Linked DNA regions of Homo sapiens. The protein of the gene in region 2 interacts with the protein of the main gene of each other region in a pairwise test. Each region holds a gene or a part of one and is shown on either strand. Other genes may lie near its edges.

Region 1 (4,414 bases), on a different chromosome or scaffold from region 2:
AGGCTGGTCTCAAACTCCTGACCTCAGGTGACCTGCCTGCCTTGGCTTCCCAAAGTGCTGGGATTACAGGCATGAGCCACCACACCTGGCCACATTACCTTTATCACAAAAAAGTTATTTAAAAAAAAGTTTCTGTCTTGGGTAAACAAAATAGAAGACGAAGAACTAGATGTCTAGGGCCAGTTCACTGTTCAACTGCAAGGGTCACCACTCGAGCAATGAGCTAAGCAGCCCTATGTCTGCTTCTGTCTGTCTTTGATGATGGACAACTACATGGGAAAGAACTCAAACTACATGTGGAAAAACTCCACTGATTTAGAGCGTTAGCTGTGTTACACATACATCAGCAAAATCATTCACAGACGAGTCACCCAAGAGTTTAATAATCCCACATCACGAGTGTTTGATTCTGTTACTTATCATCAGTTCATATTTCATTCTTCACAGCACAACTGCCTATTCCAAGGCCCTGCAAATTGTTCTGTTTGAAGCATCTAGGTAAACTGCAAAGTTTACTTGCCCTCTCCAGATAGTAGACGTGGACAGCAGCTGTTCACGTGAGTGCATGCTCTGCACGTGTGCAGAAAAGGGCAAAAACTGGCACAGCCAAAGTGTGCTGAAGACTTTTCATAGCAGGCCTGGGTGGCTCTCCTTGGAAAGGCCTGCTTGCAAGGTTGCCCCTTGGCTGGTGTCTGGGAATTTGGATTTCAGAAAGGTTCCCATCGGTCCAATAACTGATACGGGATTCTGCCTAAACCGTTTGCGCAAGCAATGTGCTTTCTGCTGAACACTTTGCTTTTGTTTTGGGAGTTTGGACTTTTGGTTCAAGCCAGGCAGATGGTACCTATGGGACCAGCCCTCAGTAAAAACTCTGGACACGGAGTCTGTAATGACCTTCCCTGGTTGGCAGCATTTCACGTGTGGTCACAGTCTGGTGCTGGAGTAGTTACGCGTAGCCTTGTGGCCCCACTGGGAGAGGAGTCTGGAAGTTTCCTTTAGGCCCTGCCTCACCTGTCCTTTCCCTTCCTGACTCTGCTCCGCATGCTTTTGCTGTCAGCAACCATAGCCACGGGTATACCAGCTTCTGCATTTTCTGAGTTCTTCCAGTGAATCACCCAACCTCAGGGTGGTCTTGGGGAGCCCAACACATCCCCTATTAATGTAACCTTTAGAAGATGCTTTTGTTCATAGCATTATCTCTGTGCACGATCCAAGAGGGGTTCCTGAGCACCCACTTTATTTTGCCTCCACCTGTGCTAGGTGGGCCCCTCTGGGTTCTAAGGCATCTCTGTATCTTTGTGCTTCTCTTGTTGACTATTCATTAACTCATTCCCTCACTGAGGGCAGAGGGCGCACTTCATTCCATTTCTGCATCCCTAACACCATGTTCCCATTACTTGGGAAGTGCAAATTCCAAGCCAATACCAAAAGCTGCATTATAAGCATTTAAAAAGCTTAAGACCCTATGCTACCCCTGGTGGTATCCTGCAACGATGCCCTCGACATTCACTCTTCTTCAAAGCAATGAAGCTTCAAGTAAACTTGACTTAAATGGCATTTTCTCAACTATTTTTCTCTCTGAATACATTTCCCTAAGCATCATTTCAACTGCTTGTACTGATTCATCACAAACTCAATCTGGGAGGAAAGAAATGCTCCAGTTAACGGTGCTAAGGGCGGCCCAAGTCACTCTCAACAGCCCCAGGGCCTTTTATAAGGGCTCCCTGGCCCCTTGGTCTCATGCCTTTAGTAACAAAGTATGTGATTAAAAAAAAATTAGGTAAAGGAATCAAGTACATCAAATAGCTACTAAAGCCTGTAAGTATGATGAAGACATAAGCTCTTCTGAATACTGCCATCATTCCAGGCCCAGTGCACTCCATTCTACCCCAGTGGCATATAGTGCAGTGGTTAAGAGAACTGACTTGAAAGCTGGGTTCTGCCATGTACATTAGCTACCTGACCTCAGACAGTGGCTTCACTTCTCTTAACCGTAACAAGGAGACCATAATCATACTTTATTCAGAGTCAACTAAGTTAATATATGTAAAGTACTGAGAGCAGTGCTTGGTGCACCATATCATCCAAGCAATGGACTCTTATAAACCTACATCTACTTATAGCGCTGGAGACAGAGGGCAAATATCAATAAGCAACAGTTACCACACAAACACTGGAACAAAAGGCAACACTTGATACTAGTGACAACAGAGAAGTCTCAAACCTTTTCAGACAGGCTTGACTTGTTAACTGTCAGGAGTCTGTAAATATATGTGGGCTCAAAGGCAGCTCCAGGGCGAATATCCCTCACGATTTTATCTCCAAGAGCTGCAATGGAAAGAGGACACAGGTTTTCCTAACTACAATGAACTCATAAATGATGAAAAAAGCAACATCATCAAAACTCCCCCACCTCCCACCTGGCTGAATGTTGAGAATGGCATAGGTGTAAAGACACTATCTTCCCAACAAGACTGAATTTACCAAATTTAAGTCATCTGTCTCCATAACTCCCAATATGTAATAGCATCAACAAAACTCATTTTTACTAACCTTGTCGGGGTTTTGGAGGTACTGGCATATTAGTGAACTCATTCATTAGCCGAACACTAAACATGGGGAAAAAATGTTAAATAGTGCAGTTTTAAACAATATATACTTTTACTAAAGAGCTTTGATGGCTAAGTAGAATATCAGCTATACGAGTATAGTAGATTTTAGGTAACCAATGCTGTAACAGCTAGTGAACTCAAGTCTCTTCTATATGCATTTTTGGTCTATTTCAAGTGATATATGCTGGTAAACGCTAAAATATTTTCTACTGAATCTAAAGAACACAGATCATCAATGCTCCAATTCCATTTCTGGTTAACTTCCATATAAAATCGCCAACAGTCTATTTTTAAAAAAAGACAGAATTATAGGACTCATTTGCAGGAAATCAAGAGCTTTACTAAACTATTTCAATTCTAATTATCAGACGGGAAAAACCCCACCACTTAACACATCTTTCACCACCTTACTTACAAGCTGTCTATCATGGGTGTTGACGTACAAGGCCTTTGCACTTTGGAATACAGAGGAATGAACTTCATCAGGTGGTACATCGGCGGGCAAGCAACCAATGCCTGCAGTGTCTATGTAGTGGCAGTAAGGAAGCGTAAAGGAAATGAACAGACACACCACATTTCCTGAAGGCACATGAAGCACAAGAATGTTTATAAAAACACAAGGAAGCTAAGGACGTTGAACTACTTAGATATGTCACCACGAAAAGGAATAAACCAAATAGTTACTAGGGTAAGTGTCCTGTGATGTCCATATAAGGATCTACGAAGCAGTCAGTCGTTTGTATTCAAGAACTTGACCTAACCAAGACAGTTCAATCAGTTAAAACCAAATTTCCAGTTGTAAGTGGTTGCTCTGCCCTATTATTTGTGACTATTCTAATGAGAGCCAGCTTGTCTGCAGCCCTCATTCACGTGCCAACATATCCTCTCTTTTAGAGGGAGATGGACTGGGGTCAGGAATAATCCTGTTTATAAGCAAGGTAGGCAGACCAAGTAATAAACCAGACTTAGGGATTCAAATGGAGAGCTAGATGGCCCACGGAAGCTGAGCTAAGTCACATGCACCCAAAGGAGGGACAGCTGCAACAAGCTGGCCTTGCGGACGGCGTCCAGGAAGGATACAGCATTAATGTAGCACCAGTTCCCTTTATTGATCAGCCCACGGGGTTGCAACGACACTGGTTTATGGATTAGGGTTACATTCTCCAGCAACTCTGAAAGAGTGAAGAAGCATATTTCAGAAATTGATGACATCTAGTGAAGAACATTCAAATCATTTCACATGCTCTACTCTGGGACAGCATTTAAAATCCCTTCAGTAAAACACACAGCCAAAGAAAATGCATACTGTTAAGGCTTCATTCAGTTCAACATCAAGTACATTATTCAATTAGAACATTTTTGAAACTAATCTTTTCCCTCAAATAGCAACATTTAATCTTCCTGGGGGGAACAGAATTAGGGAACACAAGAACTACCTATTTTAATGAGAAACAAAAAAATGTTAACACAGTATCATTATTAGAGAATAGATTTGAGAGATACAGCCTTTCTTCCTTAAACACCATTAGCCAGGTGTGTCTCATCAGCAGCAAGGCGCCTCAGACACTAGATAGAAAGATATCTTGCAGAACCCACGTCTCATTCCTCTCTGCATCCCCAGCATCTAATGCTGACCCTACACATCACTGTGTGTGTTCAATGGCTGTTCAGTGAGTAAAAATACTCCTTTCAGAGACAGCGGTCTCCTACAAATTAAACCGTCCACTAGAAATCCAATTTAGCAACTGTTTTATAAACTGTAATTCCCTTATTCCATTTACAAACACGCTGCTCAGCCTCAG
Region 2 (5,332 bases):
ACAGAGCAGGCCTTGGCTGGGGCTACCAAGTGACCACGGCATGGCCAGACCCTCCAGGACTCCAGGACGGCTCCAGGGAACTGGGGCTTTAGTGTTACCTGCTGTCTCCACCGAGGCGGCCAGCTGCCCATTCTTCTTGGAGGTCACAAACTTGCCATTGGACGCCCTCAGTGTGATGCGCCGGTCACGCCACTCGATGTCAAAGTAGCAGCTGGCATTCCTGGGGGATGGCGGGACAGGGTCAGGCGGGGTAGCCCAGGCAAGGTGGTGGGGGCGGTGACAGGTGGGAGCGAGGCACTCACTTGCTGGAGGCGGTGGACTGCACGCCCCCGGTGGCCGTCAGCGTCCAGTACTTGCCCGTGTGGGTACGGAAGGCACACTTTTTGGTGTCGCGGTCGATCTCCAGCTGGAAGGTCTCCTGGTCGGTCTCCTCGTCCTGATTGGCAGACAGGTCCATACCTGCAGAGAGGAGGCCTTGGGCTGGTACTGGGGCCCCACGCCCCCTAGTTCTGGCAGACCATAGCCCTGAGCTCACAGAACTACACACGCAAGGTAACACCACGGGGTGGGGTGGGCGGCCGAGTCCCCACAGTGGCACACATGAGAAGCAGCAGAGAGCACCCAGGAACGCAGGCAGGGCCGGTCAGAGGCCAAGGCAAGCTACATCTGTTCCCACATGACTTTCCCCAGTTAGAGAAATAATAGGGGCCAGGGACAGGGGCTCATGCCTGTGATCGCAACACTTTGGGAGGCCAAGGCAGGAGGATTGTTTGAGTCTAGGAGTTTGAGACCAGCCTGGGCAACATAGCAAGACCCCCACCCCACCCCCGTCTCTACAAATTACTTTTTTTAATTAGCTGGGAGTGGTGGTGCAAACCTGTGGTCCCAGCTACTTGGGAGGCTGAGGCAGGAGGATCGCTGAGGCAGGAGGCTGAGGCTGCAGTGAGCCGTGATTGCACCACTGCACTCCAGCCTGGGTGACACAGTGAGACCCTGTCTCAAAAAAAACAAAAAGAATCAAGAAACCAACTGCACAAAAGACATTCTTGAGCCAATCAGGAGGGTCTTAACGTGGCCCAGAATTAGATGTTAAGCATTGATTACTGTTGATCACGTTGTGGTTACATAAGAAAATGGCCTCGTTTTTTTAGAAACACAGATGGAAGTATTTTGGGATGAAATGCCCTGATGTCAGGGATTTGCTTCAAATACAACCAAAAATGGTATAGAAAAGGACAAATGGGGCTGCAGCACAGCGGAACAGCGCATCTTGGGGGGCCGTGTCTGGGGGTTCATGCTATTGTTCCTGCTTCTATGTAAAAATTAAAATAAAACACGATGGTACATGTTCCTTTCCTTTAGAAAACTTATAAAAGGGCCGGGTGCGGTGGCTCATATCTCCTGCAATCCCAGCCTTTTGGGAGGCCAAGTCAGGAGGATCATTTGAGACCAGGAGTTCAAGACCAGCCTGGACAACTTAGCAAGACCCTACTTAAAAAAAAAAAAAAGGGGCCAGGCACAGTGGCTCACACCTGTAATCCCAGCAGTTTGGGAGGCCAAGGCAGGCAGATCACCCGAGGTCGGGAGTTTGAGACCAGCCTGACCAACATGGAGTCACCCCGTCTCTACTAAAAATACAAAATTGCCTGAGGCTGAGGCAGGAGAATCACTTCAACCTGGGAGGCGGAGATGGCAGTGAGCCGAGATCACTCCAGCCTGGGCAACAAGAATGAAATTCCGCCTCAAAAAAAAAAAAAAAATTTTTTTTTAAGCCCTGTCTCTAAAACAAAAAAAAGGAAACTATGAAGTCCTACACGTCCCCTTCCCACCCCACTGCAGAACACCCCTGTGTTGGCAAATACATCTCTTTCTTTTTGATTCAGGGTCTTGCTCTGTTGCCCAGGTTGGAGTGCAGTGGCACAATCATAGCTCACTGTAGCCTCGACTTCCTGGGCTCAAGTGATCCTCCCACCTCAGCCTCCCAAATAGCTGAGACTACAGGCACACACCACCACATCAAGTTAATTTTTTTTTCTATTTGGTACAGACAGGGTCTGGCTATGTTGCCTAGGATGGTCTTGAACTCCCGGCCTCACATGATCCTCCTAACTCAGCCTCCCAAAGTGCTGAGGTTACAGACACAAGCCACCATGTGCCCAGCCAGTGAACCCACAACTTTCTAGCTGTTTTTTTCTTATACATAAGAAGCATGCGGGTTGCCACGGCGGCTCACGCCTGTAATCCCAGCACTTTGGGAAGCTGAGGCGGGTGGATCACCTGAGGTCATGAGTTCAAGACCAGCCTTGCCAACATGGTGAAACCCCGCCTCTACTAAAAATACAAAAATTAGCTGGGCATGGTGGGGCATGCCTGTAATCCCAGCTACTTGGAAGTCTGAGGCAGGAGAATCACTTGAACCTGGGAGGCAGAGGTTGCAGTGAGCTGAGATTGCACCACTGCACTCCAGCCTGGGCGACAGAGCAAGAATCCATCTCAAAAAAAAAAAAAAAAAAAAAAAGGAAGAAAGAAAGAAACATGCACAGATGTCCTCTGTCTCTGGATTTGCATACTGTTTTCTGTATGGCATCTTTACATGATTCCATGTCCCTAAAAAGTAGAATGGGACTGGCCGGGCACAGTGGCCCACACCTGTAATCCCAGCACTTTGGGAGGCCGAGGCGGGCGGATCATGAGGTCAGGAGTTTGAGACCAGCCTGGCCAACATGGTGAAACCTCATCTCTACTAAAAATACAAAAAAAAGGACCAGGCAAGGTGGCTCATGCCTGTAATCCCAGCACTTTGGGAGGCCGAGGCAGGCGGATCACGAGGTCAGGAGATCGAGATCATCCTAACACGGTGAAACCCGTCTCTATTAATAATACAAAAAAAAAAAATTAGCCGGGCACGGTGGCGGGCGCCTGTAGTCCCTGCTACTCGGGAGGCTGAGGCAGGAGAATGGCGTGAACCCGGGAGGTGGAGCTTGCAGTGAGCCAAGATCGCGCCACTGCACTCCAGCCTGGGCGACAATGCGAGACTCTGTCTCAAAAAAAAAAAAATTAGCTGGGGGTGGTGCCGGGCGCCTGTAATCCCAGCTGCTCGGGAGGCTGACGCAGGAGAATTGCTTGAACCCAGGAGGCGGAGGCTGCAGTGAGCTGAGATCCGCCACTGCACTCCAGCCTGGGCGACAGAGCAAGACTCTGTCTCAGAATAGGACCCCAGGGATCTCTATCTTCGGGAAACTTAAGGTGGCTTTCGGGTTTTGCTCCCCTAAGCTATAGCAAAGCTGCTATTCTTTTTTTGAGAAAGAGAGTCTCGCTGTGTCTCCCGGGCTGGAGTGCAATGGCACGATCTCGCCTCACTGAAACCTCTGCCTCCTGGGTTCAAGTGATTCTCCTGCCTCAGCCTCCTGAGTAGCTGGGATTACAGGCACCCGCCACTATGCCCGGCTAATTTTTTTGTATTTTTAGTAGAGACGGAGTTTCATTATGTTGGCCAGGCCGGTCTCAAACTCCTGACCTCAGGTGATCCACCCACCTCAGCCTCCCAAAGTGCTGGGATTACAGGTATGAGCCACTGCGCCCAGCCCACAATTGCTATTCATTATAACTACATTGCTTTGCATATCCACATGGATTCCTCCAGCTAAAACCTGGAGGTGGGATGTTTGGCTCCAGCAGCACAAATTCACATTCCCCACGCGCTCTGGATTCTAAGAACTGCAGCAGCAGAGGCGTCTGCCGGGCTCTGTATGGGTGCCTGGCTCAGAGCTGGAGAGTGTCTTCGTTTGGGCACCTTGATGCTGCAGGGACCTCAGCGGTGGGTGGCAGGCAGCACCCACAGGAGAGGGAGGCTGGTGGGTGGTAGAGCCCACACCCAGAGGACACATCCTCAATTCCATTTTTTTTTTAGAGATAGGGTCTTGCTCTGTTGCCCAGGCTGGAGTGCAAGTGGCCCAAGCATGGCTCTCTACAGCCTCCACCTCCTGGGCTCAAAGGATCCTCTTGCCTCAGTCTCCCCAGTAGGTGGGACCACAGGCACTCACCACTACACCTGGCTAACTTTAACATTATTTTGTAGAGATGGGGGTGGTCTCGCTATGTTGCCCAAACTCCAGGACTCAAGCAGTCCTCCCACCTTTGCCTCCCAAAGTGCTGGGATTACAGGGGTAAGCCACCACGCCCGGCCTCCCCATCCTGTTCCATCCTGACCCAACCATGCAGCCCCACATCTGCTCCACAGGTGGGGATCTTCATCCTACTTCACAAAGAGGGAGACTAAGGCCGGTGGTGGCATGTCCTTGCCTAAGGTCACACAGCAAGAGAAAGTAAGGGTCTGGCTGGCTCTCTGGACCGGAGGTGGGTGGCCCTCTTGCCACGCCCTTTCCCTGCCCCACCCTCTTGTCTATGGGTTCCTGGCCCCGCCCCTTCTTGGAACCCCTTGGGCTCCACCCCCCAGGTTCCCTGGGGCCCCTTAAGCCGGTAGCCCACCCTCTGCCCTCCGACGAGCATCCACCGCACTGGGTGGGCTGGCTCAGCCACCACACCCCAGCCAAGCACGGGAGGAGGATAAGGTGAGCAGGGGCTGGGTCCCAGGGTGCCGGGACCATCCTAAGGCCACACCCCAGGGAACACGAGGGCTGGGGCCTCTGCTCACTCAGCCCTCCACCAGCCAAGAGGCCCTGCAAAGGTCTGGCCCGCCCCACCCCCACTGCACAGAAGCCGCAGGGCTGCAGGGAGCCGTCAGGCCAGCCACACCCGCACAGCTGCCCTCACCGCCCCCTCATTCTGCTCAGAAGGGCCTGCATGTCTACCTACAGGCAGGGGCCGCACCCTGGGCCCTGGCCTGTGCCGGCCACAGAGCACCACCTGTCCAATGCGCTGGGGCTCCGCTGAAGCCCCGCTGATCGGAGGGAAGTTAGGGACCAGGTAAGAGGACAGCCTCCTGCAGGCCCACCCCAGCAGCAGAAAGGATGGAGGGAGAGGTTCTAGGTCCACCCCAGCAGCAGGAAAAAACAGAGGGCATCAGGGGCTCCAGGTTCCCCAGAAAGAGGGGCAAAAGGAGAAGGGGAGACAGTGGAACAGAAACCACATTAGCACAGCCTCGTCCTAGGGTTTACAGGGCTCGTCCTCACACAGCCTTGCAAATAAGCAGGGCGCTTACCAGCCCGCCTGGAACAAATGCAGGAAGCCGGGAGGCTCCTTCTCAATGAGACTTCCAATGGCTGCGCAGGGCTTAACTGGCGGCAGCCACGGGGCCACGTGTGAATGCACGTCGGCCTTAATCCTCCTGGCAACTCCATGAAATTTACACTAACCTCATCCCCCAAGCCAG
Region 3 (4,414 bases), on a different chromosome or scaffold from region 2:
ACGCGCCAACATGCCCGGCTAATTGTTTTGTATTTGTAGTACAAACAGGGTCTCACCATGTTGGCTGAGCTGGTTTCGAACTCCTGACTTCACGTGATCCACTCATCTCGGCCTCCCAAAGTGCTGGGATTACAGGCGTGAGCCATCGTGCCCAGCCTGGTGACTTCTTTATTTAGAAAAGGAGCCCCAAATCCTAGTGGCAGCTGTACTTTAAAGTATAACAGGATTCTCATAGCGCCCTCTGTTGGAAATGTTTCTCTTCTGAGAACCAGGATCTTTTAACCCCTTGCCATCAGAGCTATGGAGATGGGAAGCAGAAACTGCCCAGGTGATTCACAGAGTGATGCTATGCGGAGCCACTCCTAATTTCATGTGATCTTCCTACTGGGAACACTGGAGAATGGGCGCCTCACCCTTGCAGGGCATCATGCCCAAGCTGCAGGATCTCATCATCAGCTGTGCCATCAAAGGACTGTTTTACTGCTCTATCAAGTCATCAGCTTCTGGACGGTGTGGTGCAAGATGGGACAAATGATTCTCCTATTCTATAAAAGTGGGTCCCGGCCGGGCGCGGTGGCTCACGCCTGTAATCCCAGCACTTTGGGAGGCTGACGTGGCCGGATCACGAGGTCAGGAGTTCGAGACCATCCTGGTCCACATGGTGAAACCCCGTCTCTACTAAAAACACAAAAATTAGCTGGGCGTGGTGATGTGCACCTGTAGTCCCAGCAACTCAGGAGGCTGAGGTAGGAGAACTGCTTGAACCCGGGAGGCGGAGGTTGCAGTCAGCTGAGATCACGCCATTGCACTCCAGCTTGGGCAACAGAGCAAGACTCCGTCTCAAAACATAACATAACATAACATAACATAACATAACATAACATAACATAACATAACATAACATAACATAACAGTGGGTCCCTTATTCTGAAATGATCCCTGTAGTAGAGGATCAAACATCCTGCAAGCCCTCAAACAGTAGTCCTGGGTGAGACCCTGCTGGAAAGACAAATTCAGACCCAGAATATGTCTCAAATCCAATCAAAATGAATCATGGTCCTTTCCACTGTATAAGGACTGGTTGGCCTGCTTGAAGGATGATTGATCTCTGCTGCTGTCAGGCTGGATATTCAGCAGCAGCAGTTGCTAGATCAGCACTGGTGAATGAAAACCCTTTTATTGGGCCCATGCACAGCCATCATCGGTAATTTTTCCATGCACTCATAGGCCAAAAGAAATACCAAACAGTAGTGTTTATTAAGTAGTTAGATCCAAATAACAAGAATTCATGTCCTAACAAATGAGTAGACATTTGAAAAAATAACACATAAATTGGAAGAAAAATATTTTTATTTCCTTCTTAAAAACTACAAATACTGGGCCAGGCGCAGTGGCTCACGCCTGTAATCCCAGCACTTTGGGAGAACGAGGCAGGCGGATCACGAGGTGAGGAGTTCGAGACCAGCCTGACCAATATGGTGAAACCCCACCTCTAGTAAAAATACAAAAATCAGCCGAGTGTGGTGGGACACGCCTGTAATCCCAACTACTCAGGAGGCTGAGGCAGAAGAATCACTTGAACCTGGCAGGCGGAGGTTGCAGTGAGCCGAGATCGCACCACTGCACTCTGGCCTGGGTGACAGAGCGAGACTCTGCCTCAAAACAAACAAACAAACAAAAACTTCAATTACTTGATAATATGACATGTGTGCCTGTTAGACACAGAACAACTTCTCAAACTTGGAATCAGACTGAACATGCCACCCTCCTTTCCTGTTCCACACTGATTTTTGCACAGTGCTTGATCTGTATCACAACTAGTAAAAATCCAACCCTGCAAAAATATGACATCATCAAAAGAAATGTGGCATGAGCTAATGTCAAAACCGTGAACTACCTCAAGCTAGTAATTTGTGACAGATATTGCTGTGTTTCCTTTAAAATTCTGAAATATCCCATGGTATTCTTTTGTGTCTGTGGTGGTGCTTTGGGGTGCCTTGGTGCAGTTTGGGAACGTGTGTGTGTGTGTGTTTGTGTGTACAGTCCCTTCCTCCCTTCGCAGATCCAGCACCCCGAACTAGGTGTTCTTGTGACTTAACCCTAGTTGTTGGTTTGGTGATAGTCAGTAGGCGAGAGAGGAGGAGCTGGGGGTAAGAGGGACAGCACAGTCTGCAAGCAACCCCTCTAGCTAGTAGAAGAAGGCCACTTCTGCAGGCCCAGAGGGTTAAGAGGAATTTGGGGTTTCAGGGTTTTCAAGTGCACTCAGATGCCCCATCCTAAGGGTCAGGATTCCTGCCCAACCAGAACACTGACCTTAGCATAGCTGAGAGAGAATTCTACCTACCTTGGTGCTCTGCTACCCTTAAAATTAAGTTTTGGGTTGAAGCCTTAGATTTTTCCTCTTACTGTATATGTGTTTCTTTACATGATGCTAAATAAATTTCCTTTTACATTTTGCCCCCAATTATCTTCCACCTTGCATCATCTTTCTCCAATCTATCAATGTTATTTACCAAAAGCCATCTGATGATTGTCCTCATAATTAATTTCTCTGAACTTCTCAAAAGCCTAGTGCACTCACCAGTGCATTCCCTTCAACAGGAATAGCATTCCAACTCACCACCAGTGAAAGTTTTAAGTTGCATAGCTACAGTGCATGCCAAGCGTTATCAGTATTAGTGCTCCATCTAGCACCAGAATCGATTCTCATTGCCAGCCAGCCAGCCAATAATCCAGCTTCAAAACCTCACTGTAAAGTCTACTTTCTGAGACCACTCCTGGCACCAACTGCTTTGGGTAGGAGGGTTCCCAGGAAACAGACTCTCAAATGCAGATGTGCACACCGGAAGTTTATTGCGGAGTGCCCTCCGAACCAACAACTGTGGGGCAGTGAAAGACGTAAGACTGAACAGAGGAAGGAGTTGATCTGCAATGCAGTCCCAGGAAGCCCTCAGCCAGACCCATGGGAGAGCTCTCTGGTGTTGGGATAGACTTCAAGGTTGGCTTGTCTTATAGCAAAAGCGCTAGGCATTTATATCCCTACACTGTATAGATATTAGATGTAAACTGCCCCTGAAGAGGAGGCATGACTCTGGGGGAGGCAACTCTTGGCTCAGGGCAATGCGTGGAGTGGGACTCAGCTGCAATCAGTTTTAGCTGCCAATATTGCCAAGAGCTAGGGGAACATGTGCCTGAAAGCGGGATCTGAAAGCCTAACCACAGCACCTGCCACACCACCACTGGACTATTACACCAATTTGGCTAATGAGGGAAGAGAATTAAGCATTTATGCTGCTGGATTAGGAGAAACTACATTTCACTGACAGTCAGTGAAGGCCAACTCTTCTTTGCAGAAGAGTACCAGCTAATAAACATAGAAGAAATAACAGAATTATTTTTTAATTCATCATTTTGCAACCCCTAATGAAATTATTGACTCAGACAAGGATTATCAAAGAATGCTAAAAGCATTAGGTAAAAGGCATTCACAATGTGCTCAAATTTTTACCCTGTGATTACTTGTTCTTTACAAATGGAAAAAGCATACATTTACAGAGATGAAATCTAGTAGGTACCGTCTTACCCAAGTAATCAGATTTAACATATTAAATAGTGAGACAACCTCACAACCTCTGGATGGGATGCAACATGCAGTACCCAGCGCCATATACAATATTCTTGCTAAAAAATTTTCTAATGAACACCTAATAAACCCTTAAGGTCTAGCTTCCACTTACAGGAAATACAGATACAAGACAGAAAGATGAACAATACCTGGGGGCCCTGCCCTTAAGGAGCTAGATTTATATGACATTCTAGAAAAGGTAAAATATTAGTGACAGAAAACTGATTTGCAGCGGTCAGTAACCAGGGGTAGGAGGGCCTGACAGAACTTTTTATATGAAGTGATGGAAACAGTCTATACTTGACTGTGGTGATAGTTTCAGGACTCTTCAAATGAACATTTAAAGAGGATGAATTTTATTGTATATAAATTAAACCTCAATTAACCTAACCCCTCCTCAGAAAACCTAAATGTTTAATCTGGTTTTTGAGAAAAAAGTGAGACTATTCTGTTGATTTTTTAAACAAATATATTAAAGGACAAAAGTATTTTTAGATTGACATTTTTATTTTCCTTTTAAGCCCAGAGGCAAGATTTTTTTCTTCTCTTGAGTTAGGAAACTAATTCATTTCACATTTCTACCTACCAGTATACCAATAGAGCAGTTTTTGCCTTAACTTGTGTTTATACACTATACAGGATTCCACTGATATAACAGCTACATGAAGAAAATTACTACCTATGCACAAATACAGATGTACACATACAGATTCAATCCCGCATTACTTCCTGACATATTCCTACAATAAATAACGTCTCTTCATAGCTTAAAACCATCAAGGGTGATCA

What was found. The genes of interacting proteins can lie anywhere in the genome.
Region 1: the proteins of FSCN1 (region 2) and USP10 interact in a two-hybrid assay, tested with the Homo sapiens proteins (one large-scale study listed by BioGRID).
Region 3: the proteins of FSCN1 (region 2) and MYCBP2 interact in a two-hybrid assay, tested with the Homo sapiens proteins (one large-scale study listed by BioGRID and IntAct).

The regions. Positions count from the first base shown.
Region 1 is NC_000016.10:84,758,086-84,762,499, reverse strand, and holds part of USP10 (ubiquitin carboxyl-terminal hydrolase 10), read right to left. Parts: intron 3,785-4,414; coding exon 3,693-3,784; intron 3,138-3,692; coding exon 3,028-3,137; intron 2,610-3,027; coding exon 2,554-2,609; intron 2,329-2,553; coding exon 2,225-2,328; intron 1-2,224. UniProt on the Homo sapiens protein: Hydrolase that can remove conjugated ubiquitin from target proteins such as p53/TP53, RPS2/us5, RPS3/us3, RPS10/eS10, BECN1, SNX3 and CFTR.
Region 2 is NC_000007.14:5,598,384-5,603,715, reverse strand, and holds part of FSCN1 (fascin), read right to left. Parts: intron 460-5,332; coding exon 303-459; intron 221-302; coding exon 99-220; intron 1-98. UniProt on the Homo sapiens protein: Actin-binding protein that contains 2 major actin binding sites. Organizes filamentous actin into parallel bundles. Plays a role in the organization of actin filament bundles and the formation of microspikes, membrane ruffles, and stress fibers.
Region 3 is NC_000013.11:77,317,095-77,321,508, forward strand, and holds part of MYCBP2 (E3 ubiquitin-protein ligase MYCBP2), read right to left. Parts: intron 1-4,414. UniProt on the Homo sapiens protein: Atypical E3 ubiquitin-protein ligase which specifically mediates ubiquitination of threonine and serine residues on target proteins, instead of ubiquitinating lysine residues.